Homo sapiens: one gene and its partners. The protein of the gene in region 1 purifies or fractionates together with the protein of each later gene. This does not show direct contact. Each region holds a gene or a part of one and is shown in the gene's direction. Other genes may lie near its edges.

Region 1 (8,452 bases):
GGTCACAGTGATTCATATTTTGACCAAAAATCAAGTATAGACAATAAGAGCAATTTTAGTATACTCAAGATGAGAAAAAGAATTCTAGATTGAGTAAAATATTCAAGGGTTATTTAGTCAATATACAAAATGTGTACATTCTGGTGCATATATTTAATGCTGCCAAAATATAATCTCAATCTAAGCTTTCGATATATTCAACTCTTCATGTTATGTTTTTTGGCTAAATGAAGGCAGTCACTCACACAGGATTTTATATTTATCTTATGAATTACCTTTCTTCTTTTGGGCTTTAGGTGTATGCTTATAAATTTTTATTTATGTGTTTATATGAACATACTCATTGATATTAATATAACAAAAATGCTATCCATCTGCTAGAATTATATTAAAAGAAAGTACATTATGTGAGAAAGAGAACAATGAAATGTAAGTTTGGACTTAAGTTTTATTAGAAAAGGACATTTCTTCAAAGACAGTTCAAACTGTATCTCAGGATAAAGGACACAGCTGAAAGCTCATATATCTATGCTGTAACAGGACAGCCCGCTTAAAGCAATTTGATGCTCATTCAGTACATTCAAATGAGTTTTTAAGATTATGAAGCCTGCCTTGTCTTGCCAAGGATAAATGAATGGCGGGCTACTCAAGCAACTGTGTTGTTTCATATAAGGATTATCATCCCTTCTCCTAAATTATTAGCTTATAAAATTGAAGACAGTGTTTTGGCAGAAATTAAGTGAGGTTCCAGGTTTTTTTTTCCCTGCAGCCTGACTGATAATACAATTAAAACCACCTTTAACACTCAGAACACCTCATTAAAAATAAACATCATAATTAAGTAAATATCTAGATTTTAAAAGATCTATGCTTTTCTGGTTTCAGTATTAAGTAGAAAAAATTTATAAAGGGATTCTGATGTTCCTCAATGATATTTTCAAATATTAATGACTCTGCTGTCCATAATTCTTCAGAAGATATTGTTAGTCTCCTCATACCCTATAAACATTTTATATTTGTGCTTTATACCAAGATAAGAAAAATACTTTTCTCTTATATGCCCTCTAATTGCTAGCAATCACTGACCTTTTTACTACCTCCATAGTTTCTCCATTTACAGAATGTCATGTAGTTGGAATCTTACAGTATTTAGCCTTTTCAGATTGGCTTCTTTCACTTGGTAATATTCATTTAACTTTTCTCCATGTCTTTTCATGGTTTCATAACTCATTTATTTTTAGTGCTGAATAATATTCCATTGCCTGGATGTACTACTGTTATTTATCCTTCCATCTACTGAAGGACATCTTGTTTGCTTCTAAGTTTTGGCAATTATGAATAAAGTTGCTGTAAACATCCGTGTGGATGTTTTTGTGTGAATACAAATTTTCAATTCCTTTGGGTAAATATGAAGGAGCATGATTGCTGGATCATATGGTGAGAATATGTTTAGTTTTCTAAGAAACTGCCAAACTGTTTTCCAAGGTGGCTGTACCATTTTATATCCTTACCAGCAATGAGAGTTTGCGTTACTCCATATTATCACCATTTTTTTTTTTTTGCCATTCCAAAAGTTATGTGGGTGTGTCTGTTTGGTTTTTAGAAATCTCCATTTCTTCTTCAAATATTTCCACATCCAAAATCTATTTTTTGGAATGACAAAATATATAGTAAATCAAAATCAAAGGTGGCGAGGGACAAAAGACTATACACTGGGGACAGTGTACACTGCTCAGATGATGGGTGCACCAAAATTCCAGAAATCACCGCTAAAGAACTTATTCATGTAACCAAACACCACCTGTTCCCCCAAAACTATTGAAATAAAAAAATAAAAAATTTACAAGAAAAAAATATATTTAATGGTTAAGGCTTTTACTTCTACTTCTTGATACCCTACCTGGGGATTCTACAAATCCTAAGAATATATGGTAGTTCTCAGATATTATTAATACAAATTGTTATCATTAAAAAAAAATCTCAATTTCTTCTTCAAATATTTCCACATCCAAAGTCTATTTTTTTGGAATGATGCAATATACAGTACATCAAAATCAAAGCTGTAAGAAAATGATTATAATTTTTAATCACATATTTAAGTCTAAGATAAGGGCTCTGGTGTCAAGTGGTCTCAAGCTTTTAGAGTACAGCTAACCATGCAGTTAACTATAGGCAGTCAATCACAGGAGCCATAAGAGCTCTCAATAGCCAAAGCTGGAACAATTTTAGCAAATAAATAAATGAAGTATAAAATAAATATTCAAGAGGCCATACTATATAAATAAATGGATAGATTAATAAAGACACACCTAGAAAAATCTCCCTTATAGAATAATTCCTAATAATTGATGTGCATGTTCTGCCCTCAAGAAACTAAAGCATAAATCCCTACTCCTAAAGTGATAGATATGCAAAGCTACTTCCTTTCAAAGGGTACAGTATGAAAAGAGAGGGAGATGTTTACAGCATACAGTGGAGAAACCCAAGAAACACTACCTTATTCAGGTGACCAAAGTTAACATCAATGACAATAAGTCATGTCCATAGTCTGCACCCTTAATGGGATGGCATTTTCCTCTGTTGTCTTCTTCCAAAAACATAAAATCCCAGTGTTAATATGGGAAAAACATCAGACAACTCTCTATTGAGAGACATCTATAAGATATGTGACCAATATGCCTCAATGCTGTCATGTATATAAAAAGTAAGGAAAATCTAAGAAAAGGTCATGGCCAAGAGAAGCACAAGGGAACATAATTAATATTATATCATGGATGGGATCCTTGAACAGGAACAGGCCACTGGATAAAAACTAAGGAAATATGAATAAAATATGGACTTCAGTTAATAAAGTATCAATATTGGTTTATTAGTGCAATGTATTTATCATTCTAGCGTAAAATGTTAATAATATGGAAACTGGGTGCAGAGTATGTGGGAAGGCTCTATACTATCTTTGTAATTTCCCTGTAAATCTAAGACTGTTCAAGAATTTTTAAAGGGGTTAGTTAAAACATTAAATTGCCTAGACACTCACATTCAAAGGTAAAAATTATTATACTGGATAAAAACTTACCAGCAATGTATTGTTTATATGAACCCATTTACATAATAGAACAAATTTAAGTTGAAAGTAAAAGGTGAGAAAAGGTACAGCAAACACTATCAACCAGAAATCTTGGTTGCATATATAAATATTAGACAAGAAGGGTTTAAGGATAAGGATACTTTAATATCAGAGAACACAGATTTAAAAAAATTAAAGTTGGGCCAGGCGCGGTGGCTCAAGCCTGTAATCCCAGCACTTTGGGAGGCTGAGGCGGGTGTATCACCAGATCAGGAGATCGAGACCATTCTGGCTAAGATGGTGAAACCCCATCTCTACCAAAAATACAAAAAAATTAGCCGGGCATGGTGGCGGAGCCTGTAGTCCCAGCTACTTGGGAGGCTGAGGCAGGAGAATGGCCTGAACCCGGGAGGTGGAGCTTGCAGCGAGCTGAGATAGAGCCATTGCACTCCAGCCTGGGTGACGAGCGAGACTCCGTCTCAAAAAATAAAATAAAGTAAAATAAAATAAAATAAAATAAAATAAAATAAATAAAAGTTGGTCGGGCGCAGTGGCTCATGCCTGTAATCCCAGCACTTTGGGAGGCCAAGGCAGGTGGATCACAAGGTCAGGATATCAAGACCATCCTGGCTAACATGGTGAAACTCCATCCCTACTAAAAATACAAAAAATTAGCCAGGCATGGTGGCAGGCGCCTGTAGTCTCAGCTACTCAGGAGGCTGAGGCAGGAGAATGGCGTGAACCCGGGAGGCGGAGCTTGCAGTGAATCGAGATCACGCCACTGCAGTCCAGCCTGGGCGACAGAGCGCGACTCCATCTCACAAAAATAAAATAAAGTCAATCAATAAATAAAAGTTAAAAAGGAATATTTTATAATAATAATGGCAATCTTTCAACAGGAAGACAAAAACAATTATAAATTATTTATATCTAAAATGTAAACTGACCAACAAGAATTGGCAAGGATATATATACACTTTTGACAAGAGTGTAATTGGTTTGTCAATATCTACTTAAGCCATATTTTGACAAGAGTGTAATTGGTTTGTCAATATCTACTTAAGCTATATATGTCTACCTAATAACCCTCCACTTTCAAATTTTTTTTTTTTGAGACGGTGTCTCCCTTTGTCGCCCAGGCTGAAGTGCAGTGGGGCTATCTCGGCTCACTGCAACCTTCGCCTCCTGCGTTCAAGCGATTCTTCTGCTTTAGCCTCCCGAGTAGCTGGGACTACAGGCGCGCGCCACCATGCCCGGCTCATTTTTGTATTTTTAGTAGAGACAGGGTTTCACCATATTGGCCAGGCTGGTCTCGAACTCCTGACCTCGTAATACGCCCACCTCGGCCTCCCAAAGTGCTGGGCCAATTTCACTTCTTAGTAAATAAGAGAAATGTATGCATACAGCTATTATGACGTGTGTAAGAGGGGTCGGAAAAGAATCTCTAAACAGGAATAGAAATGAATAAAAGCAGCTGTCTGAGTAGGGGAAAACTCGAGAGAAGCAGCGGAACTCTTGTTTCAGATCACGCGATTCTAACGAGAGTTATGTCAGGGCACCTCAGAGCATTCGGGATTTGGGCCAAGGCGACGAAGAATCTCGTCCGGGTCGACCTCATACGCACAGGCGCAGGCGCAGCGGGAAGTTCTTCCGTGCCAAGTCGTGCTTGTAAAGAAGCGGTACTTCCTCTTACTCCCGGGACAGAACTTCCCCTCAGGAGGGAGAACATCCGCCGAACGAAATGGAGAGCAAAAGACCGCGACTGCTCGAGGAAGCAGACAAGCAGAAAAAGACAGTCAGAGTGGGACTCAATGCACCTTCCATGCTACGAAAGAACCAGCTAGGTTTCCTCAGATTCGCCAACTATTGCCGTATAGCTCGCGAGCTGCGTGTAAGCTGCATGCAGAGGAAAAAGGTCCAGATTCATAGCTGGGATCCCTCCTCTTTGGCAAGCGACCGATTTAACCGCATACTGGCGAATACCAACACTGACCAGCTCTTCACAGTGAACCAAGTCGAAGCTGGAGGCTCCAAGTACGGCATCATCACCATGCGAGGCCTGACGACCCCTGAGCTCCGGGTATACCCGCACAAAACCCTCTACGTCCCTAATCGGAAGGTGAATTCTATGTGCTGGGCCTCACTGAATCACTTGGATTCCCACCTTCTGCTGTGCTTCGTGGGACTTGCAGATACTCCAAGCTGTGCCGTGCTGCTCCCAGCGTCGCTGTTCATAGGTAGCTTCCCAGGAATGCGTCGGCCTGGCATGCTTTGCAGTTTCCAGATCCCTGATGCCTGGTCCTGTGCCTGGTCCCTGAGCATCCACGCGTATCACTCTTTCAGTACAGGCTTGTCTCAGCAGGTCCTGTTGACCAACGTGGTGACGGGACACCAGCAGTCATTTGGGACTAGCAGTGATGTCTTGGCCCAGCAGTTTGCAATCATGACTCCTTTGCTGTTTAATGGCTGTCGCTCTGGGGAGATCTTTGGCATTGATCTGCGCTGTGGAAATCAAGGCAGCGGGTGGAAGGCCATTTGCCTGTCCCATGATTCAGCAGTGACTTCTCTGCAAATCCTCCAAGATGGCCAATTCCTGGTGTCATCAGACATGACTGGAACTATCAAGCTGTGGGACTTGAGGGCCACTAAATGTGTAACACAGTACGAAGGTCATGTGAATAACTCCGCCTACCTACCCGTGCATGTGAACGAAGAAGAAGGAGTCGTGGCGGCCGTGGGCCAGGACTGCTACACGAGAATCTGGAGCCTCCGTCATGGCCACCTGCTCACAACCATACCCTCCCCATACCCCGCCTCGGAGAACGACATTCCCAGTGTGGCCTTCTCTTCTCGCCTCGGGGGCTTCCGAGGAGCACCAGGGCTGCTCATGGCTGTCCGGGAGGACCTTTATTGTTTCTCCTACGGTTAATTCTTCAGGATGCAGCCCGGAGGAACGTGGATTTGACTTAAAGAAGTAAAGAGCATCGTATTACCGTTTCTATGAGCGCATTTTAAGAGATGTTCGGTGTTTGTAGATCCCATCCATCCGGCTGCTAGGGGTAAGGTGCTGTTTTATGTGAAGATAGTTCTGTAAAGTTGTTTCAGTTAAACTGGGCTGAGAGAGCTTGAAAGTCCTTTTCATAAAAGATAACTATTTCCTTTTCTTGTTGAATACCTTAGAATAGTTATCCCCCCCTTTTTTTTTTTTTTTAACAAAAAAACACTTTTCTAAGGACTGAAGATTGGCAAAAACTAAAATAAATTAAAACTGCTTACACCAGAAGCCTTTTAGAGAAGCATGAGACTGTTTGACTAGTCCTACCTGGGTTCCGGAAATACATGCATCATCTGTACTTGAAGAGGCCAGTGGGAGAGGAGAGGAGGGGGAGGTCATTTATCTGAGTCTCTCCAGAAGTTTTTAAGGCTACATTTTGGAATCATTAAACTTGGCCTTCTCAAACTCAATAGCAGATCTCTGAGATTCTCCTTTTATTATTTTCCATAGGCAATGGGAGGAAAGGTGGATCTTTTTAAATAATAGAAGTTTTAAACAGTCCTTAACGTGCTTTTGTTGAGGCATCTTCCAGAATGTAAGGTACAGCAGCTCCGGTTTCTATTATTGTGACTTGAATGTCAGGATTCAAGGGCTCAGTGTCAAAGATAATTGGCTTTGACTTTTTGTAATCTAGGAGCAGCAGTTTGTGAGATGTTTATTCAAAGTGTTAGCCTGTTTTTCTACCAACAATAAGCTAGAAAAGACAAAAAAAACAAAAAACAAAAAAACGTGTAATAAAGTTAGTGGCTACTTCTTAATAGCCAAAGCCTGGAAATGATCTCACTTTACAATATGCTAAAATTGATAAATAATTTGTGCTGTAGTCATACAATTGGATAAAGCATAATATAAAATAAGGCACAATTGCTATATGAAACTGTGGATTAATCTCAACATGTTGATTGTAAATGTAGGTAGAAATGAGTACAAACTGATTCAGTTCTAAAGTTCCAAAGCACTAAAAACTTATCTATGGTGATTACAGTTTGAATAGTAGGTATCTCTGTGGAAGGAAGAAAGGATATTGTTTGTTTTTTTCCCTTTTATTTTTAGGATATTGTTTGGAAAGTAACACGGGGAAACTTTAGAAATGCTGTTTTCTTTTTCTTGATCCTTGATACATACATATTTTGTATGTCTATACACTTCACACTTTATATAATACCTCAAAAATAAAAATATGAAAACAGTACACTGTTGTAGGTTGGTCAGGAAAGGGAATGATTGTGGCTTGGACCTGACTATGAGAAGTAGAAATAATCAGAAAAATCAGAAATGATTGCATTGGAAGATCATTCGAAGGTAGTATTAGTAAGATTTGCTGATGAGAGTAATCTAGAAAGTGAAAGACAGCATAAAGATTGCAGCTTTTTTGTTAACTTTAGGACTGGTGGATGGTTGGTGTCATTTACTAAAATGGGGAGGATTTGAGGTGAAAAAATTTTAGGTGAAGAGAATAATGCTGAGTTTTAGGCAACTATTAAAATGTCCATTCTGTAGATTAGAGGTGATGTCAGGACATAAATGAGGTTAATGTAATATTACATATTGATAGAGGAATAGGTCAATAGAGAAGATACAAAAGAGTGGTTAGGTGCATAGATTTTTGAAATCAGTTAAATTAGTTTTTGATACTTGATGTGTGACAGGGGAAACTGTGTAAGCTGTACTTGTTATTTCTTTGTAAAATGTCTTAGATAATAAAACTAAATCATAAAGTAGATATTGGTTTAAAGGATGTATACATTGTCCCTTTTACATTGTAAGCATTCAATAAGAACTAGCTGCGGATGTAATTTTTTTTAAAAAAGTCCAAAAGCAGCTATGGGCAGTTGACAAAAGAAAATGTAATGACTACGTAACTTGCGAATCTGTTTACCCTCACTTGCAAATAAAATAAGTGCAAATAAAGCAATGATTATGTATTGTTTTCATTCATTATTCTAGTACAATTTTTGTTTATAGCAGCTTTATTTATAAATGCCAAAAACCAGAAACAAACAAGATGTTCCTCAAAAAGTGATGGATAAACAAACTAGTATACATACTTATATGATGGAATATTACTTAGTAATAAAAATAAAATAGCTATTAAGCTGCAAAAAGACATGGAGGAATCATGAGTACTTATGAAGAAGCCAATCTCAAAATGCTATATATATATATGTATAATTCCAACTATATGGCAGTCTGGAAAAGACAAAACCATAGAGATGGTTAAAAATATTAGTGGTTTCCCAGATTTCAGCAGGAAGGGAAAGAGGTCAATAGGTGCAGTGCAGGCATTTTTAGGGTAGTGAAATTATTCTGCATTATACTGTAATGATGGA
Region 2 (7,976 bases), on another chromosome or scaffold:
AGTACTTCAATTAAGTACAATTTAGAAGAACTCTACCAGGTATGTATTAATATGCATAACCAGATTTGATTAACATAAATTGAGGTGGGATGTATATGGATTTTGCTTTCTGAAATAGGTTCTTAAGTAGACTTTTGGTTCCCTTCTAATTTTAGTTTCTCCATTAATTGATGAACTCTATAATTAGACCACGTATTCTCACATAAACCATGGGTACAGTCATACCAGTATAAGTTGTGCTTATATTTGACCCTCCTGATAAGAAATTACAGTTACGTGTACCTTGGTGTAATAGAAGTTCTACCTATAATGTAATCCTATAGCATGAATCCCAAAGATGATTTCTGGTGACATGTCATTCTATTGTGATAATTGTTTCTTAGTTGTGTTACCTACCCATAGGAAAGGCCTCAAGACATGCAGATATTATTCATATCCTTTATTCTACCTCCTTCTTAATAGTAGACTTTGCCATTTCTTTTTCTTGCTCTTTACATTTTTCTAATACCTGGGCTACAAGACGCACCTTAGCCCAGAAATGAGTAGCAGTTTGTAGTCCAGCAGCTTAGTCTGAGGTTCAGATTCTTTACTTAGCAAATGGGTCCTTACACTTAAATATAATTTTAAGGGCAGTTCCTAAGGGCAATCCCTTGCTACCAAGAAATTTTTCCCTACTGTGTATTTGACACACAACCAATTCAAGAAGTTACTTTCATTAGAGTGTCAGGGATTTGGTGTTAAAAGATACTTCAGGCCGGGCACGGTGGCTCACACCTGTAATCCCAGCACTTTGGGAGGCCAAGGCTGGCAGATCACCTGAGGTCAGGAGTTCGAGACCAGCCTGACCAACATGGAGAAACCCCGTCTCTACTAAAAATACAAAATTAGCCAGGCAATGTGGTGCATGCCTGTAATCCCAGCTACTCAGGAGGCTGAGGCAGGAGAATCGCTTGAACCCAGGAGGTAGAGGTTGCGGTGAGCCGAGATTGCACCATTGCACTCCAGCCTGGGCAACAAGAGTGAAACTCCATCTCAAAAAAAAAAAAAAATATATATATACTTCAGAGTACAATAGCTTGAATTTTTGTATTGATGAGTACCTTGTAAGAAATTATGTTGGTTTTATTTATCAGTATTTGTATATTTTAGTTGCAGAGCTAGTATGGTGATGGGTAAACCTGGATTAGGAGTCAGAAGATGGGTTTGGGATCTAGTTTTGACTGCTGTTACCCTCATAATCTTGGGCCAGGTACTAAAGCCCTCTCAGTTTTTTTTCCTGTTTTTTTAAGAGATAGGGGTCTTGCTATGTTGCCCAGGCTGGTCTTGAACTCCAGGGCTACAGCAGTCTTGTCACCTCAACCTCCCAAGGTGCTGAGATTACAGGCATGAGCTACCAAACCCAGCCGTCACTCTCAATTTAAATTTCCTCCTCTCTAAAGTAGAGGAAATAATAGTTTGCCCTACCTGTCTCACAAGGTTGCTGATAAGAATCAAATAAGATATTTGTGGAAAACGCCTCCAGGCACTATAATCTTACAAATATAAGATGGTATCACGAGTCAAACTTTTTTACAAGCCACATTATAGCTTCTTCACTTGTAGTATGACAATTGAGATCACCAGTTTCTGTTGCTGTGAAAATTAGTACACGCAAAATACTCAAATCAGTGCACAACACATAGTAATAATGCCGTGTAACATTATAAGCATTATAATGCTATGCAAATGTCGGCTAGTAGTTGTAGTACTAAGCTATTACTTAAGAATAAGCCCATTTCATATGGCTCTTTTGGCGTATTATATATGCGTCTCTTAAAATGTACAACAATAAAAGCCAAAATATGAAACTGACTTGGAAAGGCCTTAAGAGAGCATGTGGTCCAATATTTTTTCTTTGTGGTGTCCATGACAGCCTGCAAAGGGGATTCATCTCGTATTATCTCATATAAGCATTATGGAAACCCTTTCTGGGGTACGTAGGGTAGTAGTTACTATCCCCACTTTTTTTTTTTTTTTTTTTTGAGATGGAGTCTTGCTATGTCACTCAGGCTGGAGTGCAGTGGCGTGATCTCGGCTCACTGCAACCTCCACCTCCCGGGCTCAAGTGATCCTCTTGCCTCAGCTTCCCAAGTAGGTGGAATTACAGGCGCCTGCCACCACGCCCTGCTAGTTTTTGTATTTTTAGTAGAGACAGGGTTTCACCATGTTGGCCGGGCTGATCTCGAACTCCTGACCTCAAGTGATCCACCCGCCTCCACCTCCCAAGGTGCTGGGATTACAGGTGTGAGCCACCGCGCCTGGCCTATCCCCACTTTATTGATGAGGAGACTGAGTCTCAGAGAAGTTGAATAACCTGCCCAGAGTCACATATTGGCAGAGCAGGGGCAACTCAAACTGAGATGCTGGATTTCTAGTTCATTGCACTTTTACTCCTGTACCACCTCACTAATATACCCTGGTACTTTGAATACCACTGTAGTGCAGTGTTTGAAACAATTAAATTGTTTTACTTTAGGGAAAAAGCTCTTTATAATTTTAGTAGTATTTTTATCTGTGCATGCATAAGTGGTGTTTATTTGGATAGTATATGGTGTTTATTTGGATATGCTGGTATACAGCATATTTAATTTCAATAATATTTTATATATTCCATATTTGTAACAAATGTTTATTGTGGTTATTAATTAACCCTATTTACTTTACCTTGAATATTTTTCCAGAGCTTTTGATTTGAAAATACTTTTCCTGATACATTGATTCTGTTAAATCTTTTTCTTTCAAGAGCATAGAGCTTGCATCTCTTGTTTTTGTTTTCTTGTACTTCGTAAGTTTTACCTGCTGTTGTTCAGTTGCATTTCTTTAGCCTAGTCACAAGTCTTATAACTTCACTGTTTGCATTTTTCATAATACCTTACTGCTTTTGCTATAATGAATTCAAAAGCATTGGTTTTTAGCTCTTTTACTGTTTTTGACCTTAATTTTATAAATGTTCCTTTGGATTGTTCTCAGAAAGATTATTTTGAGATGTTCAAGTTCAAACAGGAGGATAAAGGAGGTAAAGCTATTTCATATAATCTGGACTTCAGGTGCTTGTTTGATTTTGACTCATTGAAACGTAATTAGAAGTACTCTCTCAATCTACCTGAGTGGGAAATAAAAACATAAGAAAAAGTACTCTTCTAAAATTGAAATAATGTGGAAATATGTAGTTATACAAAAGTTCTCCAAACCCCTGTCCCACCCTCTTTCTCTGAGGTAAACACTTACTGGCATATATCTGCTTAGAACTTACTTCTGCATGAAAAAACATTTTGCTTTAAAGCTTTAAGTATGGAAGTCCCTAGTGTGGGTTGCATGTACTGCCTACTAAGTTTTTAATTTCTATAAAAGAACATGCTGTTCTAAGTACACTTGCAGTAAGCAAACATTGTCTTTTTAAAGTAATTTTAAATTAGAATTGGACCTGAGTTTTAAAATTATCTTTCCTTGACAACCTTGAGATCCTGTGGGTGTGAGGCAGTGATTAATGTTTTCATTTGACTGTTTTGTTTGTTTGCGTGCTTGTTTTTAATTGACTGCAAATAAGACTGATTAAATGCACTGACTTTTGAGCTGTCCAGCCTGCCTTAGGTTACAAATCTGTCACTCATCATATAACTTTGGGCGAGTTACTTCTCTAAGTCTTGGTTTCCTCATTTACAAGATGGTGAGACTAACGGCTACCTATATGGTAGGGTTTTTTAGACGTAAATGAAATATTGCAAAAAAGTAATTATCACAGTTCCTGCTATATATTGGTATGTGTCATCAATGATAGTAGATATTTGAGTCTTTAGAAAAGAAATCTTTATTTTAAAATTACATTTTATTTTAGAGCTCTGAAGCCACACGATTTTAAATTCTAAATCTACACTGGGCCAGAGCAGCTGTCTGATAAATAGATTACATTCCAAATGTGCTTCAGTAGACACCATTAGCGAAATTGAAAAAATAATAGAAAAAGACAGGAACTCTCTAGGAACAGTGTCCCTCTACGCTTAAAAAGAATGTGTCTTGTTTTCACATGTGGTATCATACAGTTGGAATTTTGGTTTTGGTGTGAGTTTTTTTACTATTAATAAGTAATATTTTAAATAGGATTATTTTCATAATCCTATTATGAGCTCATGTTCTCAACTTTTGTATGAGTAGCCGCAGTGTTTTGTTTTGTTTTGTTTAAATAGAGATATGGGGGTCTTGCTATGTTGCCCAGGCTGTTCTCGAACTCCTGGCCTCAAGCAGTCATCCCGCCTTGGCCTCCCAAAGTGCCAGGCTTACAGGCATGAACCACCATGTCTGGCCTACTACAGTGTTTAAGATCAGCTACCTTTTTTGGAGATGCTGGAAGTTTGTACAGGAGCGTGTAACATTTATCTTTCCTATAAATCTCTAGCTATTTTTAAAGTCAAGCCTAGGCCATACTTCAATTCTGATGAAAATAATTTTATTTATTATTAATAATGGGAACTGTAGTTACCTTTTTGTGAAATAAACCTTAAATGATGAACCTTTCTATTAACGATTCATTTATAGAGTAGATGACCACAGGACTAGAATCAAATAGTATAGGTTATTATCAATTGTAAAATCTGGTTGCTTAAGCAGTCAGTGATTATTAAGAAAGCAGTTAGATTCTTAGCATTGTTGATGACTAGCTGTTGGAGTCTGTGTAACTTTTGTCACCCTGTTGATGTCTTAAAGCTTAGTCTATTATGTATTATGTATTTCTCTTTTTACTGAATCGTTAATCAGTACTATTGTTGCTGTTTTTTAAAATGTACAACTAAAATTCTACTCTTTGTTATTTTGAAATATACAATAGATTATTAAATAATAAAAAATTTTAAAATGTGCACTTACAAATTCTTAGTCCTTGATAATTTTCAGTCTTATTTAAGTCCTGTTTACTGGAAGTAAAAAGAAAAGGAGTTTAGGTTTCATTGTATAGTTGGTTTCCTTTAAACAGATTCTTAGTTTTTGAATACTTAGAGTATCTTAGCCATATTTACTTGACATAAAAAGAGAGATAATGTAGATCTTATTGCTATATCAGTTGTTGAATTTTTTGTTATGTGCTTTACTTACTATCTGTAAACATAGCTCGAAAACTAAGACTCCACTCCTTAGACCAGTGACCAGAGTTCAACACCCTGGTGGAAATTCAGTATCTTTTTTATTGTCTGTTGTTCAGTAAATATTTGCATATGTCATTTGCTACACGTTTATATATATTTTTTGACTGTGTTTTTTTTTCAGACACTTTTTTTTAGCTCATCCTTGTGAAGAAAGACACATTTTTTATGTATCCTGTGGATTTTGGAGGGGAAGGGCTGGGATTTGGAAGAATAAGGGTTAGAAGCTTGCTAGAATGCCTGTATTTTATACCTAAGTACCTTCAAAGGATTTAAGGCAGCATATTTACTGGTAATTAGTGGGAGCTTAAATAAAAAGATAGTTTTATTAAAAAGACTTGTAAGGCTGGGTGCGGTGGCTGACGCCTGAAATCCCAACACTTTGGGAGGCCAAGGTGGGCGGATCACCTGAGGTCAGGCATTCAAGACCAGCTTGGCCAACATGGTGAAACCCAGTCTCTACCAAAAATACAAAATTCAGCCAGGTGTGGTGGCACGTGTCTGTAATCCGAGCTACTGGGAAGGCTAAGGCATGAGAATCGGTTGAACCCAGGAGGCAGAGGTTGCAGTTATCTAGAATCTGTTTATTACAAATAGTTGTTTGTGAGGCAAGAGGTTACTTCCAGAGATTCCCAAAGTGTTTTATTAGTGTAAATAATAAATACGTAATGCATAATATGTAAAAATACATAAATAATACATAATATTTAAATAAAACAATGCATAATATGTAAAAATACATAAATAATAAATACATAATATTTAAAAGAATATATTTGTAAAAGTGCTTTTCAAAGATCTAGAGTAAAATAGAGCTTATCTCAAACACCTTCTTATTCCTGTTTCCATCCCAGCATGTAATAGGATGAAGAGTACTTAGTAAACAGTCATTCCTTGTTCAATCCATGACTGCTTACTGTGTCCAAAACTGGACTGATACCTTGGGGTTATGGAAAGCACTTAGTACTAGTAAGAGAGCATAAGTACCTACCCTAAGTTACTTATGTTCTAATAGGTTCATGAAATTAATAGTTCGTGACCAGCATTTTTTAAAAAGAAATGAAATAGCAAATATCAGAATGCATCACATAGAGTAATGATGTGTAGGTTCGTGAAGATTTTATTTTAGTTACATAAATTTATGTATGATGGATTGTGACATTAGATTTCCTACTGTGGCTTTGGGTCAAAACATTTTGGAAGCCACTGTTTTACAGACACCACTCCAAATCTTGCCTAAAGGTGAGAAAAGTAGAGTACTTGGATCAAAGGATGTGTGAAAGGTTATAATCGGGTGGCCAAGGTGGCTCATGCATGTAATCCAGCACTTTGGGAGGCTGAGGTGAACAGTTCACTTGAAGTCAGGAGTTCGAGACTAGCCTGGCCAACATGGTAAAACCCCATCTCTACTAAAAATGCAAAAAAACCTAGCTGAGTGTGGCGGCGCATGCTTGTAATCCCAGCTACTTGAGAGGCTGAAACAGGAGAACCACTGGAACCTGGAGGCAGAGGTTGCACTGAGCCAAGATTGCACCCCAATCTGGGCGACAGAGCAAGACTCCATCTAAAAAAAAAAGAAAAAAGAAAAGTTATAATCAGACATGAGATGAAAGTGGTAAGATTTGCCTTGAACACCATGCTAAAAAGTATGGTGGTGGGGAAGTTAGAAAGGCTTTTATTGGGGAAGGCAAGTATTTAAGTTTTTTGAATACCTGATATATTCCTCTGGTTCAAAGCCCCGAAAGTATTGCAGAGCATGTAGTGAGAAGTCTCACTTCCACCCCATCCTCCAGTCCCCTAGTTAGTTCTCTTTGTGACAGACATTATTAGTTTTTTGGGTATCTTTCCAGAGATGTTTTATATACGTAAAACGACTGTGTATGTTTTTATTTTGTTCCTTTTTTACATAAATGATAGCAGACCATGTACCGGATAGTTCTTTTTGTTTGTTTATTTATACCTATTACGAGATTGCTCCATCACAGTACAGGAAAAGCTTGATGGAAGGTTGTTGAGGAAGGAAAATGACTAGATCCGGTCTATAGGTTAAGCAGTCAAGGCTAAATTAGAAAAACAGAATGTTCCCTCCGAACTTGACCTCAAAACTCACCTTAGATGCTCCTGCCTTTCTTGCCTTAAAGTTCTTAAACCACCCTCCAGCCAAACACAGGTGAGACTCTGTGCTGTAAAGCCCAGCTTAATTCTCGATTTCTCACTATTTCCACTAACTTTTTATCTGTTTCCCTGTGGGTCTTTGGGACTCTGTCCCTTTACCTCTTCCCAGGAAGGCTTTTCTGACTTGCCCTCCCCTAAATGCTGGGTTAGGGGCCTCATCTCTCTGCTTATCCTCATCATAGCATCTAGCACACTCAATCGTAATTACACGTTTTCTGGCAACTTTTCTCATACTAGAAGCCCTTTCTATGTGCAGGACACATTGCTAGAGTTTTTTTTGAATACTTCATGTATTCACTTGGTTCAAAGCTCAAAAAGTATTAAAGAACTTATAGATAGATGAACACACAATGTCTTTCTGTCATTAAGGAGTCAGAGAGACAAGATATACACATAAAAAGATAAGTAGTTTTGTGTAAGAAGTGTCCAGTGGTTGGGAGATAAATAGTGTTGACTCAATGACTAAGTCAGTGTGGTATGATGGGTGCGAGTGCCATGTGAGTCACTGGTAGCTGAGTCAATTAAGAAGAACTTATTGGAAGAAGTGGGACCTAATTGAGTAGTAAGGGAATATGGTATCTTGTGTGAGAAGATAAGTAGATGTGCCGAGAACTGTTTTATTTGAGAAGG
Region 3 (8,455 bases), on another chromosome or scaffold:
GCCCTAAGGACGCCTGCTGTGCAACAGGACCCTGCGAGGGAAAGGGGAAGGGATCCACCAAAGATAAACTGCAGATTATTTTATTTGTTTGTTTTTGTTTTTTGAGGCGGAGTCTTGCTCTGTCACCTAGGCTAGAGTGCAGTGGCATGATCTTGGCTCACTGCAACCTCCGCCTCCTGGGTTCAAGTGATTCTCCTCCCTCAGCTCCCAAGTAGCTGGGATTACAGGCACCCGCCACCTCACCAGGTTAATTTTTGTAGTTTTAGTAGAGACAGGGTTTTGCCATGTTGTCCAGGCTGGTCTTGAACTCCTGACCTCAGGTGATCCACCTGCCTTGGCCCCCAAAGTGCTGGTATTACAGGCGTGAGCCACTGCGCCCGGCCTTAAACTGCAGATTCTAAAGCTGCTGGGACTGGTTCGTCACTAGGCCCATGGACAAACTGGTCACCGATCCCCATGCTGACCGGTAGGCACTTACGGACGCTCACTGACCCTGAGGAGGATAGGGAGAGGTGCCTCCGCTTGGCATCCTCCGTGGGCTCAGGCTGGTGGGTCTCAGTCAGGCATTATGGAAATGATCTGAAGTTCTAGACACAAAGGTCAAAGCATACAGTACACAAAAGGAGTGTCTGAAAGGAAAGCCAACTGTTATAAATAATGGGGGACTCAGCCAGGCACAGTGGCTCACGCCTGTAATCCCAGCACTTTGGGAGGCCAAGGCGGCAGACCACCTGAGGTCGGGTGTTCGAGACCAGCCTGACCGACATAGAGAAACCACCTCTACTAAACCCATCTCTACTAAAACCCTACTAAACTCTACTAAAACCCTACTAAAACCCATCTCTACTAAAAATACAAAATTTGCCAGGCCTGGTGGCGCATGCCTGTAATCCCAGCTACTGGGGAGGCTGAGGCAGGAGAATTGCTTGAACCTGGGAGGCAGAGGTTGTGGTCAGCCAAGATTGAGCCATTGCACTCCAACCTGGGCAACAAGAGCAAAACTCCGTCTCAAAAAATAAATAAATAAATAAATAATGGGGGGCTCAAAGGTGAAACCCCAGGCTGCCAGCAATGCTGCCCCCCCACATCCTGTGGAGCCCTCAGGGCCTGGCACCTTCTACACTGAAATCATTCACTCAGTCAACAAATGTGCATTAAGTGGGGTATGGTCGTGTGCACCTGTAATCCCAGCTACTCAGGGAACTGAGACGGGAGGGTCACTTGAGCCCATAAGTTGGAGGCTTCCGTGAGCCGTGATCATGCCACTGCACTCCAGCCTGGGCAACAGAATGAGACCCTGTCTCTAAAAATAAAATTAAAAATAAATAAATGTGCATTAAACACCTACCATGCATTGGGCTCTGGAAAGATGCTGGGAACACCCAGATAAATAAGTTATGGTTCTTGCCTTCAAGAAGTCCCCAGGTCGGCCAGGCGCGGTGGCTCATGCCTGTAATCCCAGCACTTTGGGAGGCCAAGGCGGGCGGATCACGAGGTCAGAAGTTCGAGGCCAGCCTGACCAACATGGTGAAACCCCATCTCTACTAAAAATACAAAAATGAGCCGGGCATGGTGACGCATGCCTGTAATCCCAACTACTTGGGAGGCTGAGGCAGGGAATCACTTGAATCCGGGAGGTAGAGGTTGCAATGAGCTGAGATCACGTCACTGCACTCCAGCCTGGGCGACAGAGCAAGACTCCATATCAAAAAAAAATAAAAAATAACAAAGTCCCCGGGTCTAGCAGCTGGACTCCTCACCCAAGACCCAGACATCCCAGTATGGCCAAGAGGGTCTCAATTTATGCCTATTGCCCCTGTGTCATTATTAATAGGTTCCACTTGCACTCTCAAAAGTGTTCTGGTTTTAATGATAAACTATGCGATCACCTTAACCATAGCACATTGTTATAGGCAATGGTGGAAATAGCTGGGGAAAATGGGAGTATGTGCTGTTAAGACTATGATGGAGGCCGGGTGCGGTGGCTCACGCCTGTAATCCCAGCACTATGGGAGGCCAAGGTGGGCAGGTCACCTGAGGTCAGGAGTTCAAGACCAGCCTGGCCAACATGGTGAAACCCCCTCTCTACTAAAAATACAAAAATTAGTCGGGCATGGTGGCGGGCGCCTGTAGTCCCAGCTACAAGGGAGGCTGAGGCAGGAGAATCGCTTGAACCCGGGAGGCGGGGTTGCAATGAGCTGAGATCTTGCCACTGTTCTCCAACGTGAGCTACACAGCGAGATGCTGTCCCAAAAAAAGACTATGATGAAAAGACTTTGGTGGAAGCTGTGTGAAAGCAAGAATCAGTCTGCTTAATGTGTGGTCAGAGGTCAGACCACCAGACTATGGAGAATGTGATCAGAGGATGATTTTTTTTTCTTTTCTTTTCTTTCTTTGCTTTCTTTTTTTTTTTGAGACAGGGTCTTGCTCTGTCGCCCAGGCTGGAGTGCAGTGGCGAGATCCTGCAGCCTCAACCTCTTGGGCTCAAGTGATCCTCCTACCTCAGCCTCCTGAGTAGCAGGGACTATAGGCGCACACCACCACACCCAGCTAATTTTTGTATTTTTTGTAGAGATGAGGTTTTGCCATATTGCCCAGGCTGGTGTCCAACTCCTGAGCTCATACAATCTGCTCTCCTCGGCCTCTCAAAGTGTTGGCATTACAGGCGTGAGCCGCCGCACTCGGCTGGATGATGCTTTTTATACGTGTCTGTTTCTCTAACCCCAGGCTTGCTGCTCTTCCCCAACCCCCAGGGTTAAAACTGAGCTTCCTATTATGAGTAGCATTAGCAACATGCACGGGCTTCCAACTTCAGCTGCACTGGGCCACTAGGCACAATTCTCAAAAACCCTGGAGTTTCATGAATACAAACTAAGTACCCATCAGTCAGGTGACCGGCTAAAAGAATTATGGTACAACCAAACAATACAACATTATCCAGCGTAAATGGAATGAGAACACCTACTGAAAGCGTGTAAAAAAAAAATCAGAGTGAAGAATAGCAGGTACAATTTTCTGCACATTTGTGTAACAAAAGAGGAACGAGTGTGTGTATACACATACGTATATACACACGCACACATAAGTATGTATGTGTATATATACACACATATATACACACTTTTATATATATTGATTATAAATATATATATTTTATATATACACTTATATATATACACACTATATATATACACACACTATATATATACACACTATATATACACACTATATATATATACACACACTATATATATATATGCACACTTTTTTTTTCTTTTTTTGAGACGGAGTTTCTCTCTTGTTGCCCAAGCTGGAGTGCAATGGCGCGATCTCGGCTCACCGCAACCTCCACCTCCTGGGTTCAAGCGATTCTTCTGCCTCAGCCACCCGAGTAGCTGGGACTACAGGCGCACACCACCATGCGCAGCTAATTTTTGTATTTTTAGTAGAGACGGGGTTTCACCATCTTGGCCAGGCTGGTCTCTAATTCCTGACCTCGTGATCCGCCCGCCTCTGCCTCCCAAAGTGCTGGAATTACAGGCGTGAGCCACCGCGCCCGGCTTTTTTTTTTTTTTTTTTTTTGAGACGGTGTCTGTGTCACCCAGGCAGGAGTGCAGTGGTGCGATCATAGCTCACTGCAGCTTGGAACTCCTGGGCTCAATCTGAGCCGTCCTGAGTGATACTCCCAGCTCAGCTCCCAAGTAGCTGGGACTACAGGCGCGTGCCACTACACCTGGCTTTTTTTAAACAATATTTTTTGTAGAGACGGGGGTTTTGAAATGTTGCCCAGGTTGGTCTCAAACTTCCGAATCCTGAACTCAAGTCATCCGCCTGGCTTCGGCCTCCCAAAGTGCTAGGATTACAGGCGTGAGCCGCTGCACCGCCCGGCCGAGAAGAATCTTACCAGTTCTCATCTTCCTTCCTCCCGTTTAAATGCTCACATCAAGTCGCTGGCTTTCCTCACCACGTGCTCTCCAGAACAAGGTCGGCTTTCCTTCGCAATTTGTGCGAGGCCCTACCTAAGGCCCTCCCAGCCCACCTCGGGAAGCTGAAGCTTTCCAGTTCTCATTAGAGCTTGACAAACGCTCCGAAGGTTATAGGCCTCGGGTGCTTCCCAAAGGCCCCCTGCGGCCTGGCCAGGAAAGACCCACCGGCGCTCTCTGCCTGGAGCACTTCAACTCACTGCAAGACCTGGTCCCAATGTCCCCTCTGCAGCATTCTCTGACCTCACCGTTCCGTCCCCGCCAAGCCCCTGCCAAGTGAAAAATACGAGTTAAAGCGTCCTGGCTGTGGATGGAGTCAGACCCGGCTCTACCCCTTGCTCTCTGTGTGACCTTGGTCTCGGCCTCCTCCACTGTAAAATGAGGACACCAGCCTGGAGGTGAGGACCCATGGGTCGAGGACGCGGGTAGGGAGCCCGTTCTGGCTCGGGGCAAAGTTTGGCGGGTCCATTCTGACTCTTGATCCCCATTAGCCACGTCTCGCCCTCGCCTCTCGTGCCCGTGCCCTAAGCGACCCTCCACTCCCTCAATAATCCAGCCGCACCCATTCGGCGGGAAAGGGCCTGCCGGGTGGGGAGGGCGCTGAGGGTCACGCGAACACCGCAGATGACAGACTGCGCGGTCATTTAGCAAATCTGCAAGAGAAAACAGGGGATCCTTGGAGAGGGGAGGATTAGCCATGGCAGAACCAGACCAGTCTCCACCCAAGGTCACAGTGCCCGCCCGACGGGCAGCGAGCAGCAGGGAGTCTCCCCGAGGCCCCGCCCCGCGAGGGCGCCCAGCCTCCCTGGGCCTTGAGTCAGAGTGCGTTGCCTTTAAGACGTTCTGGAAAGTCACCGCGTCCGTGGGCGGGGAACCAGGCGCGGCGCGTTTTGTCCCTCGCGGGCCGCCGTGGGCTGGGCCGGGCGCGAGGGTGGGGCAGGGAAACGGCGGCGGGGTCAAAGGCCACGGCGCGCACCACGTGGGCCGGTGACTCCGTCCTTCCCTCAGCAGCCGCGGCGCGCAGGGCACTTGGGTTAGTGGCGCGGCGGGCGGCGCGGACAGCCGAGGCGGACGCCCGCTCCCGCCACCATGGTTATCAAGACGGACGAGTTGCCGGCGGCCGCCCCGGCCGACAGCGCCCGGGAACACGGCTCGCAGGCCGGGGGCAAGGGGCGGCCGGGCGCGGCCGGTGAGCGGGGCCAGGGCCAGCGGGCCGCTGGGCGGGGGGCGCCGGACCAGGGCGGGCGGGTTCGGGACTCCGCGGGGATCGCCGCCTTCCCTCCGCGTCGGGCCCGGTTGTATCTCGCTGGGGCCTTCACCGGGTCGCCCCCGCGCTGAAGGTCACCTTCACAGTCGCCCCCGGCTGCGGCCCGGGTTTCGCACGTGCGGTCCCGTGGAGGGCAGCCTCGGCTGGCACCCTCGGCGGGCACACGCGCGCCTCATCGCGGGGACACGTGCGCGCACACGCGGTTTCGGGGTGCGCCGCCGCCGCAGACCGAAAGAATCGGCGGCCCCACCCCCTCTGCGCCCGAGCATGGGAGCTCTCTGAGCTGGGGTCGCTCCGACGTTTGCGGGACAGCCCCCTTCGGCACCTGCTCCGCGGCGGCCTCCCAGGCATCCCCTGTGCGCAGGGCTGCAGCCCTGGGAGTGAAGCTCCGCTCGAGGCTTCCCAGGCTTGGTTTGTGGGAAGAGCACGAGGTGCGGGGTGTGCGTTGTGAGGGGCGTCCCTGGTTCATGCCCTGAGGCCAGGCTATAACCGCAGGTCTTCAGGCTGTGGCGGAGACTCTCAGGTGTGTTGGCCTGCTCGGCCGACCTGGTGTAGGGGGCGTCTGCCTTTGCATGGGGCAGAGCCAAACTCCTTGGCAGGGGGAAGTGTTTGTGCCAGAACTTGATCATTAACCTGCCTTATTGCGAAAAGTGGGTCAGACCAGAGTTGCTGTTTTTAAGGCAAAGGTCGTTAGTGTGGAGTCAAGCTCCCAGCGATCCCCCATGGGGGCTGTATGGTGGTGACTGTGGCAGTGGCTGCAGCTTGTCTCGGGTGGGGCCTGCTTTCCCTTTCTCCTGAGCCCCTTCTCTTCCTTCTGTTCCCTCCACCGTGTCTCAGACTCCAGCCTTGGGGCTGGAATCCCCTTCCCAGGCCCTCAGTCGTCATCTTCCTCAGGCCCTCTTTGCTCTGGGTGGCAGTGGAGGTGCAGAGCTACTCCTGTCCCCCAGTCCCTCCCTCCTCCGTCGACTGTCCTCAGTTGGGACTTGTGGTCTTAACGCCTCATCATCTCCCTTCCTAGCTTCAGTGAGTGCGCCAGGGCTGACTTGGGAATCAGGATGGGGACAGCGTTCAGCCCTCTGACCCTGTTCCCATCATAGCGGAGTTGCCTTGGGGTGAGGGACAGGTGCTGGGGCAGTACTGCTGATTGTCTAGACAAGGCCAAGGTTTGGGCAGAAGAGCAGATGCTCATCGCCCCAACCTACCAGGCTTTGTGCTGATGTGGCTCTGAATCAGTGGGGGCAGGCTGGATGAGAGGAGGTTGGCTGATTTCCCCTCTAGCAGAGACCCGAAGAGTCGAAGTGACTTGCCCAAGGTCACACAGCGATTTAGCTGTTAAGGGAAGTGTTTGGATTCCAGCTCATGGCCAGCAAGCCAAGGCTGCCGTGGCCTGGCCCAGAGGAAGCTGGGACAGGCGTGTTGGTTTGGATCCCGTGCTGAGAACTAGGGGGCTGACGAGCGTCTGTTGGAGGATTTCTGTGAGGGAGTCAGTGAAGCCCCTTCCTAACTCTGCTGGGGGTGGGGGGGCTCTGTCGGGGGTAAACTGAGTCAGGGAAGGGCACAGCTATTTGTTTTGGGGAAACTGGGAGCATACTCGTGGGCAGGACATGGGCTCCTACGTCCCTGGGAAGGTAGTACAGCTAGCTAGGACTTACGTTACAGCCAGCCCGGATCTATTGAAAGAAGGAAGGAGCCTTAATGAAGACCCCCCAGCTGGGGCCCACCTGAGCATCAGAACCAAGGCTTCTGACCTCTGAGATCCAGCTCTGGAAGGCTCTTCAGCCCCCTTAGGAAGGAGCTGATCTAGGCCATTGAGGGTCGGGGGCAAGGGTTGGTTACCTTCCTGGGAATACAGCGGCTTTTAGGGGTTAAGAGAACAGGCAGGTTTTTCAGGTCCACAGTGGTGCGTCAGGTTCCTTCTGCCCAGGGGAGGGCTCCCTGGAGTTGAGGCCCAGAGGGGGAGGAGGAGGAGGCTGGCAGCTGGGGAAGGAGTCTAGGGGCTTATGGGAGCTCCGCAACAGGATCTTGGATGGGATGTGGGGAGAGCAGCCTGAGGAACTCTGAACTGTCCTCAGGCCCTGAACGCCTGCCTCTGGCCTGGGTGGGACAGGAAGGAGGCAAACAGGTGCCTGGTCTGTAGGTTCTTCCATAGGCCGCCTGCCCGCCCCATTGCCTTTCCCTGAAGCCCTGGGCTCCCGGGACGGGTGATGCACCTTTTCGGACCCTACTTCCTGCTGGAGCCTCACTTGCTGAGGCCTTGGCTGGGGCGTGGCCTGGCCCTGGCACAGTCTTCTGAGTGAGATTGTGCCTGGCTTGGGCAGCACACAGGTCCTCTGGGAGGCCTAAGTTTCTTTTCTAGTTCCTCCTCTCTGCCGCCTTTGAGCTCCCGGCGCCTCCAGGCCGGGGCAAGGGTGTGCTTTGTCTCTTCACTAGCATCTGAGTTTGCGTGTATGCAGAGTGCTGTTGGGGCACGGCTCTCCCGCTCTGCAGAAGACCTCCTTTTCCCCTCCCCTAAAGCTCACATCCTCAGAGGTGCTCCTGGACTATGAGAGGAGGGAGTATTGGCCCAAGGGTGTAGAGGCCTTGGGGAGTGCTGTGACTGGGATAGTTCTGCTCCCCCCCCCCCGAGTAGAGGCTGAGGCCTGGACGAGGAGGCAGGTGCAGCCTACCTGTGGGTGCTGCCGGGCCCCTCGGGAGGGGGTGGGTGGGCTGCGCTGAGTGGGAGTGGGTCAGTGGGAGCGGGTCCATGGGAGCGGGTCGGCGGGAGCAGGTCGGTGGGAGCGGGTGGGTAGCCCGCGCTCAGTGGGAGTGACTCAAAAGCCATGGGCTTGGGCGTCTGACACTCCTGTTTTTTCTTTCCTTTTTTTTTTAAACTTAATCCCAAATGTGATAGTAACACCTGGTTTTTTCTTGCTCTGGGTTGGCTCCTCTTGCCTCTGTGACCTTGGGCAGCTGCTTCCTAGCCTTCTGGAGCCTCAGTTTCCTCAGGTGAGATGGGCTGGCACGGCGGTTTAGGGAGCTGCCGTGGGCTGGGCCTAGCGTGAGTCCTGGCTCTGTGGTAATCAGAGTGCAGGTGGTTGTCAACACTTCTCTGGGGTCACTGCCAGGCTGCCCTGCCCCACCCCTCTCTCCGGAGGGTTAGGGTGTATTTCAGGAGAGGGTAGGAGCAGAGGGGCTCTGTCTAGGCCTGGTCCTTCTCCTCTGGTCA
Region 4 (7,791 bases), on another chromosome or scaffold:
AGTGGATCAGGAAAGATGCACTAGCTACTATAGCTGCTTACGCTGACCTCAAATTCAACAAGGATTCATTTGAGCACTGATTATGGTCAGGGCCCCATTTCTACTGCTCCGGAATACAGAGCATTGAGAATCAGATTTTGAGGGCTTTTTGGCCGTCCTAAAAGCCCAACGGGGGTTCACGTGAGTAGTAACACACACCTGGCACTTCTTAAGCACTTCTTTGACTGTGTTACAATTAAGGACTCAATTTACAAGGATAAATTGTTAACTTAGAAAGTTCAAATTCCTTAGAGCTTGGCATTCAAGCTCCTCCACATGTTCCTAATCTACCTTTTCAATCATAATTCCCACTGTTGCCAGGACTGAACCCTCTGCTCTAGTTAAATTGGATGCTCACTACCTCCTGAGCATGTTTATCTTTTCACCTGGATACCTTACTCTTTAGATCTACGCTGTTCTTTATAGTAGCCACTAGTCACATATGGCTATCGAGTACTTGAAGTGTGGCCAGTCTAAACTGAGATGTGCTGTTAGATACACCTAGATTTCAAAAATGTAGTAAAAATAATCAATCTTTAAATATTACATATTGGAACATTAATATTCTGGACATAGATGAAATAAAACACATTAAAACTACTTTCACTTCTTTTTACTTTGGCTACTAGAAAATGTAAAATTTATCTATGGCTTGCATTATATTTTATTTTTTTACTTTTTGAGACAGGGTCACACTGTCACCCATGAGGGAGTGCAGTGGCACAATCACAGCTCACTGCAACCGCCACCTTCCCTGGCACAGGTGATCCTCCCACCTCAGCATCCCAAGCAGCTGGGACTACAGGTGAATGCCACACCTGGATTATTTGTTTATATTTTTTGTAGAGATGGGGTTTTGCCATGTTGCCCAGGCTGGTCTTGAACTTCTGAGCTCAAGTGATCCACCTGCCTCGGATTCCCAAAGTGCTAGGATTACAGGCATGAGCCACCACACCCAGTCGCATTTTATCTTTAGTGGACAGTACTCCACTAGATTGTTGGCCAAGGCAGTACTGGGCCCACCATTCAAACCCATATTTGTACTTTCTTGCTAGAGTAATAGTGATGAATGAAGGGAAAATTCTGAGTAACACTGGGTTCACACATTTGAGGCAAGCAAGCCGTGTCTCATCAAATAGAAGCTGCTATCACTGATCAGCTAGCAGCTCAAGGAGGAAGACTGCCAAAGGCAGCAGGACAATTATTAATAATAATTTGTGGTACACAGCAACTGTTCAGTAAGTGTTAGATAACTCCTTTTAGGCAGTGACACTAAATACAAACAAAATCTTGAATCCCATACTTATCCCTCCTGTTTTTCTTCTTCCACTTCTAGTCACTAAAATTTAGCTATTCTGGCCGGGCGTGGTGGCTCACGCCTGTAATCCCAGCACTTTGGGAGGCCGAGGTGGGCAGATCACGAGGTCGGGAGATTGAGACCATCCTGGCTAACACGGTGAAACCCCGTCTCTACTAAAAAATACAAAAAATTAGCTTGGCGTGGTGGCGGGTGCCTGTAGTCCCGGCTACTCGCGAGGCTGAAGCAGGAGAACGGCGTGAACCTGGGAGGTGGAGCTTGCAGTGAGCCGAGTTTCCGCCACTGCACTCCAGACTGGGCGACAGACCGAGACTCCGTCTCAAAACAAACAAACAAAAAAAACAAACAACAAAAGAATTTAGCTATTCCTATGACATGCTTTCACTTCTATTCCTTTTCTCCCAATCCTCAGCTAATCAGTCTTGTCACCTTGCTTTTGAAAATATAGTTTTCAAATAGCTCCTAGCTTCCTTCTACCCTCCGTGTTCATTCCATTCTATATACTGTTAATAATGTCCCATGATACTTCTTTGCAGATGTAATTCTTTGCTCAAAACCTCCATTTTCATATGAACTTCATCAAAAATTTTCACTTAGCATTCAAGGCTTTTCAAACCTTGTCTCTTGGTACTCCTCTCCATAAAAAAAGACTTTAGGGAAACTAGATTGAGTTAATATATGTAAAGCACTTAGAACCATGCCTGGCCCATACTAAGAAATATATAGGTCTTAGCTATTATTATTATTGCTCACTTTTATTTGAATATGCTGTATGCATTTCAACTCCAGAACACTGCTAATTCCCTTTTCCTATTTGAGTACCTCAATCTCTAAAGGAAGGAGTGATTTAAACTATCAATGACCAGCAAGAGCCAATTGTTACTGCTGGAAAGACAACTTAAATATTCTTTCTACAATAGATAGGACCTGCAAACAAGGAACCCTAATTTACCACCAAATAACAAAATTTAAGGCTGGATGAAATAAATAAAAGATAATATTTTTTCCTTCATTCAAGAAACAGCAAATTTATGGAATGTGTTATTTAAAGAAAAAGAAAAAACCTGAAAAACATAAATGGGTTCTGGATTTAGGGCAGTTACTCTCTAACCCTGGCATATATTAGAATAACCTGGGTGCTTAAAAAACACAGTTGCCTGGGCCCAATCCCAGATTTATTGAAGGGGAAGGCCTCAGACACTTTAATTATTTTAATGCTTCATAGGTGACTCTCATGTGCAACCACATCTGACCATCATTGGTTTGGTCATGTTTGGCATATAGTTTTCTTATGTTTTTAAAATAAAGCACACTAAGAGAACTGATTAACCTACAATGACTTATGTGTTTATGAAGTGTTCTAAAAAACCATACAAAAACCAAAGAAACAAGAAAACAAACCTTTTCAACTTGATGTAGGGTTCAGAAGATACATACATTCCAAATACCACAGTAAGCATTCATCTGAAAGTTTGCCGGTTGGTCTTTCTATTAATTAAAAAAATTCAAAACAGAATACAGATTTAACTATGTACAATATTTACAACTTACAGATTTTACAACGAAATTATACAGTTAAGTCTGTCGTGGAAATGTTGGCATTTTGGTATATAACACTTCAGAAATTTCAAAAACAACTTTACCTCAAAAACATGTTACACAAATTTTCCAAAGTGCTGTAGCTCACTGGCTCATTTTATCTCAACAATCCAGTTTAGCAATCCAGGTACCCAAATCTTGAGGCATGAAGTAACCGCTATACTACTGAGAGACAGCACTTTTTATACAACAGCAGAGGCTGTTAGAAACCTTGGGTCTTTAAAACCCTATAACAATGCCCCTTTCACCCTCCAATCCTGAGACAACAAATCCTGTAGTTCCCCCTCATCATCGCTGTCAGCATTCTCTTCTTCCTTTTTCTGCAGTTCTTTTATGGTCAGGATTTCTTTAAGTTTATTTTTTATTTCATCCTGGCGATTCCGTAGCTTTTCCACCCGTCGGTAACACTCTATCTGCTCATCGATCTCCCCAATCTGGCGGTCCAACCGTCCCTCCTCATCCTCTTCGGCAACTATGGCTTCGGAAATAGTGTTGACCTGCCTCATGGCTTTTTGGAATTCGTCCCACTCTTTGTCCATCTGATCTTTTGGAGCATCAACCTTTCGTACTCTTGCATCTACCTCAGGGTCGTCAAAAAAACCTTCCGGTAACGCTTCCGCGGTGTTTTCTCTCCTTTCCACCACTTTTTCATGTATTTCTGCTTTCTCAATTGACCCTGAATGAGGAATTATGGGGGCCTTGGGAGGATTAGTACTAAAGAAATCGTTTGGCAGCACACTACTTGTTACCTCCCGTGAAGAGGAAACTGAGTGCTCCTTGCCCTGTGCGTCGGAGAGCGGCTTGCTGGCGTCCCCCCTTTTTCTTTCTCCATCTCCTTCCTCCTCCTCTTCCTCCTCCTCCTCATCTTCATAATCGGGGAGTAAACTGAGTCCTGAAGGCTTACTGGGAGTCGCTCTAATGAACTCCTTTCCTATTTTGTCAAAGTTGGTGGTCCACGCAGATGTGGAGGGCTGTACCTGAGGCACCAAGGTGGCCTTCGCTCTCTTGACATCTTGGTCGTCTGCGTCCGGCGCTTTCCTCTTGACGGAATGAGGCGCTGAACTGGCGGACGAACCCTGGCTGGCTTCCTTCGCGCCTTTCAGCTCGGCCACTTTCTCTCGGTGCTGCTTTCCCAGGACGTGAGTCTGCCACAGGAGCTCGCTCTTAACCGGAGTGTTACACAGGGCACAACTCAGCTGCCCCAAACGGTTGTACTTCGCGAATGGAGATTCTATCCGTTTCCGACTGGTGCTCAGACGCTGCTTCTCCTTCATTAACCGCCGCAATTCTTCCTGATTTATCACTCGCTTCCCTGCCGGAGTCCGGGCGGAGGCGGAGGACGCCATCTTGGCGACCAGACCCAAAACGATTCTGGTTTCCGTCGGGCGAGGCATGATAACGTCACTTCCTGTAAGGGCGATGATTGGCCGAGGCTCAAGAGAGCGTGGCGTCGCATTGCCGTTTTTGCTCAGAATCGCGACTAAGGCTTTTTTTTTTTCTCCCTCTGAACGGTTAGGCTATGGCTGCGATAAAGGCCGTCAACTCCAAGGCTGAGGTGGCGCGGGCCCGGGCAGCTTTGGCTGTCAATATATGCGCCGCCCGAGGGCTGCAGGATGTGCTGCGGACCAACTTGGGTCCTAAAGGCACCATGAAAATGTGAGACAGCGGTTGGAGCGGCCATTACGCGGCTAGGGGCCCGTTGGTGTCCTGTCGCCCTCTGAGGCAGGCGTCCGCGTAGCGCTGTGGATGTTCTTGCGAGCTTGATTTCCCTCATTCTCATCCCTGCTCTGGGGGTATTTCTCGCCTGGTGCAGGTGGAGGAGAAAAGCCTCCCCTAGTAGAGGGCCCCGGGAGTGAAGCTGTGGCGCTTCCCCGACCCCCGACTTGTCGTCAAGGTTCATATGCAGTTAGAAAGTCAGTTAATTTAGTGTCTCATTGGAAACAAAGCATTTAACTCCTCTGCTCCTTAAGACTGTATACCCTTGGTCCATAAATTCAACAAGTAGTTTTGTTTTTTGTATGGCAATGTATTGTAGTGGAGAGGACACAGGCTTTGGAGCCAGGAAGGCATGGGGTCAAATCCAAGTTCTACTTGAATACCCCGTGTCTATGGTTGTTCAGATCTATTCATCTTTTCAGTATATATTAAGCACCCTTTTCTATAGACAAGAGTGAGGAAAAGAGACCAGTGAGGGCAAAAGGGTATAAGAGGAGAGACACATCCTCATAGTAATGAACAAAATAATATTAATGGTAAAATAAGTCACTTAGGTACCAGTTGTTGGGACACAGAAATGATCAAGATAACGGTTTCTGTTCTTAAGGAGATGTGGTAGAGACGGATGTGGTAGAGTAGGATGTGCTAATTATATATAGATGCATATAATTATGCTGAAGAAAGGGACTGATGGCAGAAGGAAAAGCATCTTAAGTAACATGTTTGATCAGTCTTGAAAGAAGAATAAGACTTCACTAGTTGGAAGAGGGAGTAAAGGCCTGGGCAAAGTAATTTCAGGAATAAGAAAGACCAATGGTGCAAATCCAACAGAAACGAAACAAAACATGGTATATTAAGGGAACCAGAAGATTTGCTTGTGGAAAAGTAGATGAGGCAGGGAAGATATTGGGAAAGGTCAAGTATGTCATTGCTGTGTTTGGATTTTAACTTGAAAATGATGGAAAACATAAAAATCATTGGAGGACTTTTGATCAGGGAACTGACTGAATCACGTTGCCTTTTAGAAAGAAAAATGTGTGGAGGGTATATTTAAGTTTGGAGATATCCGGATGCCATCCAAAGTAGAGATGATAACAGTGGAGATGGAGAGAAGGTGGCAGATTCAAGAGATATTTAGGTAGTAGAATTGATAGAACTTGGTGATCTAATAAATGCAGGGATGAGGGAAACTAAGTTGAGTGACTGAATGAATGAAAACATTCACCAAAATTAAAACCTGCAGGAAATTTGCGAATTTGTGCTTTGTAGACTTCCAAGTATTCTTTGACCAAACCACAGTTCGTAACTCATCAAGTGCTTTTATCTTTAAACCTGTAAATAGTCCATTTGGAATGAAATCTCCATAATCTGTCCATCTGGGGAGAAATGATTCTGTGAGCTGCAAATGGTGGTAATTACCATGGCATATTCCCATGGTACAGTGGAAGTTTTCCGAGCCCAGTTCCCTCTATTAAGGATAATGGAGTGGCAAGCACTGGGAATGTCTTCCTACCACATGAAGTTAATATCATTCTTCTCTGAACAGGCTTGTTTCTGGTGCAGGTGACATCAAACTCACCAAAGATGGCAATGTGCTGCTCGATGAGATGGTGAGCTGATGCTGCTGACTTTAATAAACCTTAATAAGCCTTAATTAGAAGCATAGTAGAACTTGTGTATCTTTAAGCCAAGGCTGTGAGCTAAATACTGCAGTCTTGAGATATGCTGAAGACTGTTGAATTAGACCTCAATAAAAAAATTTTTTTGGCCGGGTGTGGTAGCTCACTCCTGTAATCCCAACACTTTGGGAGGCTGAGGTGGCCAAATTGCTTGAGCCCAGGAGTTCAAGACCAGGCTGGGCAACATGGTGAAAACCGTCTCTACAAAAAAAAAAAAAAAAAAAAATTTTGCTCAGTGTGGTGACATACGCCTATAGTCCCAGCTACTCTGGAGGCTGAGGTGAGAGGATCACTTGAGCCCAGGAGGCCAAGGCTGCAGTGAATGAGATTGTGCCATTGCACTCCAGCCTGAGTGGCAGAGTGAAACCCTGTCTCAAAAAAAAAAAAAAAAAAAGTTTTTTTTTTTGGCTGTTTCCAAGTCTTTGTATACTTATACATACTTTGTATACTTAGGCATACTTATAAATCAATAATATCTTTTAAGGGCACTGCCTTATGTTCTTTGTAATTATGGAAAAATAAAAATATCCTTTGCAAGTTTAATACATGTATTCATTTTGAGATTGAATGATTTAATCTTATTTTAGAAATGTCATTGCATTCTGAAGCAAAGACTTTTATGAAATGTTCAGGCCTCATTACCTGTCACTTTTAAAATTTTGGACTTGACATTTAGGTATTGATAATACAAAACTTGTAAACTTGTAGAATGAAGCTTATTTCATTTTTTAATTTTGCTACTGACCCCTAGGTTATCTTGCTTTTGGTGACCTACTTCCTTATCTCATCCTGTCTTTTTAAATCTGTTGCTTGCTTTTTCCAGCAAATTCAACATCCAACAGCTTCCTTGATAGCAAAAGTAGCAACAGCTCAGGATGACGTCACAGGAGATGGTACTACTTCAAATGTTCTAATTATTGGAGAGTTATTAAAACAAGCTGACCTGTACATTTCTGAGGTATTAGAATTTCACAGTTTATATGTTATTTTGAATGGCAAATTATTTTTTTAACTAGTAAAATGGTTGAGTTTTAGACAGTTAATTTTGTTTTAATTAATTAATTAATTAATTTTGAGATGGAGTCTCACTGTGTCGCCCAGGCTGGAGTGCAGTGGCAGAATCTTGGCTCACTGCAACCTCCGCCTCCCAGGTTCAATCAATTCTCCTGCTTCAGCTTCCCGAGTAGCTGGGATTACAGGCATGCGCCATCATGCCTGGCTAATGTTTGTATTTTTTTTAGAGACAGGGTTTCACCATCATGGCCAGCCTGGTCTTGAGCTCCTGACCTCAGGTGATCCACCTGCCTGGGCCTCCCAGAGTGCTGGGATTACAGGCATGAGCCACCGTGCCTGGTCTAGACAGTTAATTTTAATTAAGATATTCTTGGACAATTATAAATGGAAATAATAATGAACTTTGTTGGCCAAAATAATGCCTTT

The links.
Region 2: the proteins of DCAF4L2 (region 1) and CUL4B purify together in Homo sapiens (affinity purification with mass spectrometry; 4 studies listed by BioGRID and IntAct, with this or other methods). This does not show direct contact.
Region 3: the proteins of DCAF4L2 (region 1) and CLUH purify together in Homo sapiens (affinity purification with mass spectrometry; 4 studies listed by BioGRID and IntAct, with this or other methods). This does not show direct contact.
Region 4: the proteins of DCAF4L2 (region 1) and CCT6B purify together in Homo sapiens (affinity purification with mass spectrometry; 2 studies listed by BioGRID and IntAct, with this or other methods). This does not show direct contact.

Annotation. Positions count from the first base shown.
Region 1 is NC_000008.11:87,870,328-87,878,779, reverse strand, and holds DCAF4L2 (DDB1- and CUL4-associated factor 4-like protein 2), read left to right. Parts: upstream 1-4,764; 5' UTR 4,765-4,808; coding exon 4,809-5,996; 3' UTR 5,997-8,033; downstream 8,034-8,452.
Region 2 is NC_000023.11:120,549,987-120,557,962, reverse strand, and holds part of CUL4B (cullin-4B), read left to right. Parts: coding exon 1-39; intron 40-7,976.
Region 3 is NC_000017.11:2,708,279-2,716,733, reverse strand, and holds the start of CLUH (clustered mitochondria protein homolog), read left to right. Parts: upstream 1-4,969; 5' UTR 4,970-5,072; coding exon 5,073-5,172; intron 5,173-5,480; exon of another isoform or gene 5,481-5,681; intron 5,682-8,217; exon of another isoform or gene 8,218-8,235; intron 8,236-8,455. UniProt on the Homo sapiens protein: mRNA-binding protein involved in proper cytoplasmic distribution of mitochondria.
Region 4 is NC_000017.11:34,958,078-34,965,868, reverse strand, and holds the start of CCT6B (T-complex protein 1 subunit zeta-2), read left to right. Parts: upstream 1-4,408; 5' UTR 4,409-4,475; coding exon 4,476-4,612; intron 4,613-6,218; coding exon 6,219-6,282; intron 6,283-7,174; coding exon 7,175-7,309; intron 7,310-7,791. Other genes in the region: ZNF830 (zinc finger protein 830), read right to left, coding at 3,184-4,302. UniProt on the Homo sapiens protein: Component of the chaperonin-containing T-complex (TRiC), a molecular chaperone complex that assists the folding of proteins upon ATP hydrolysis.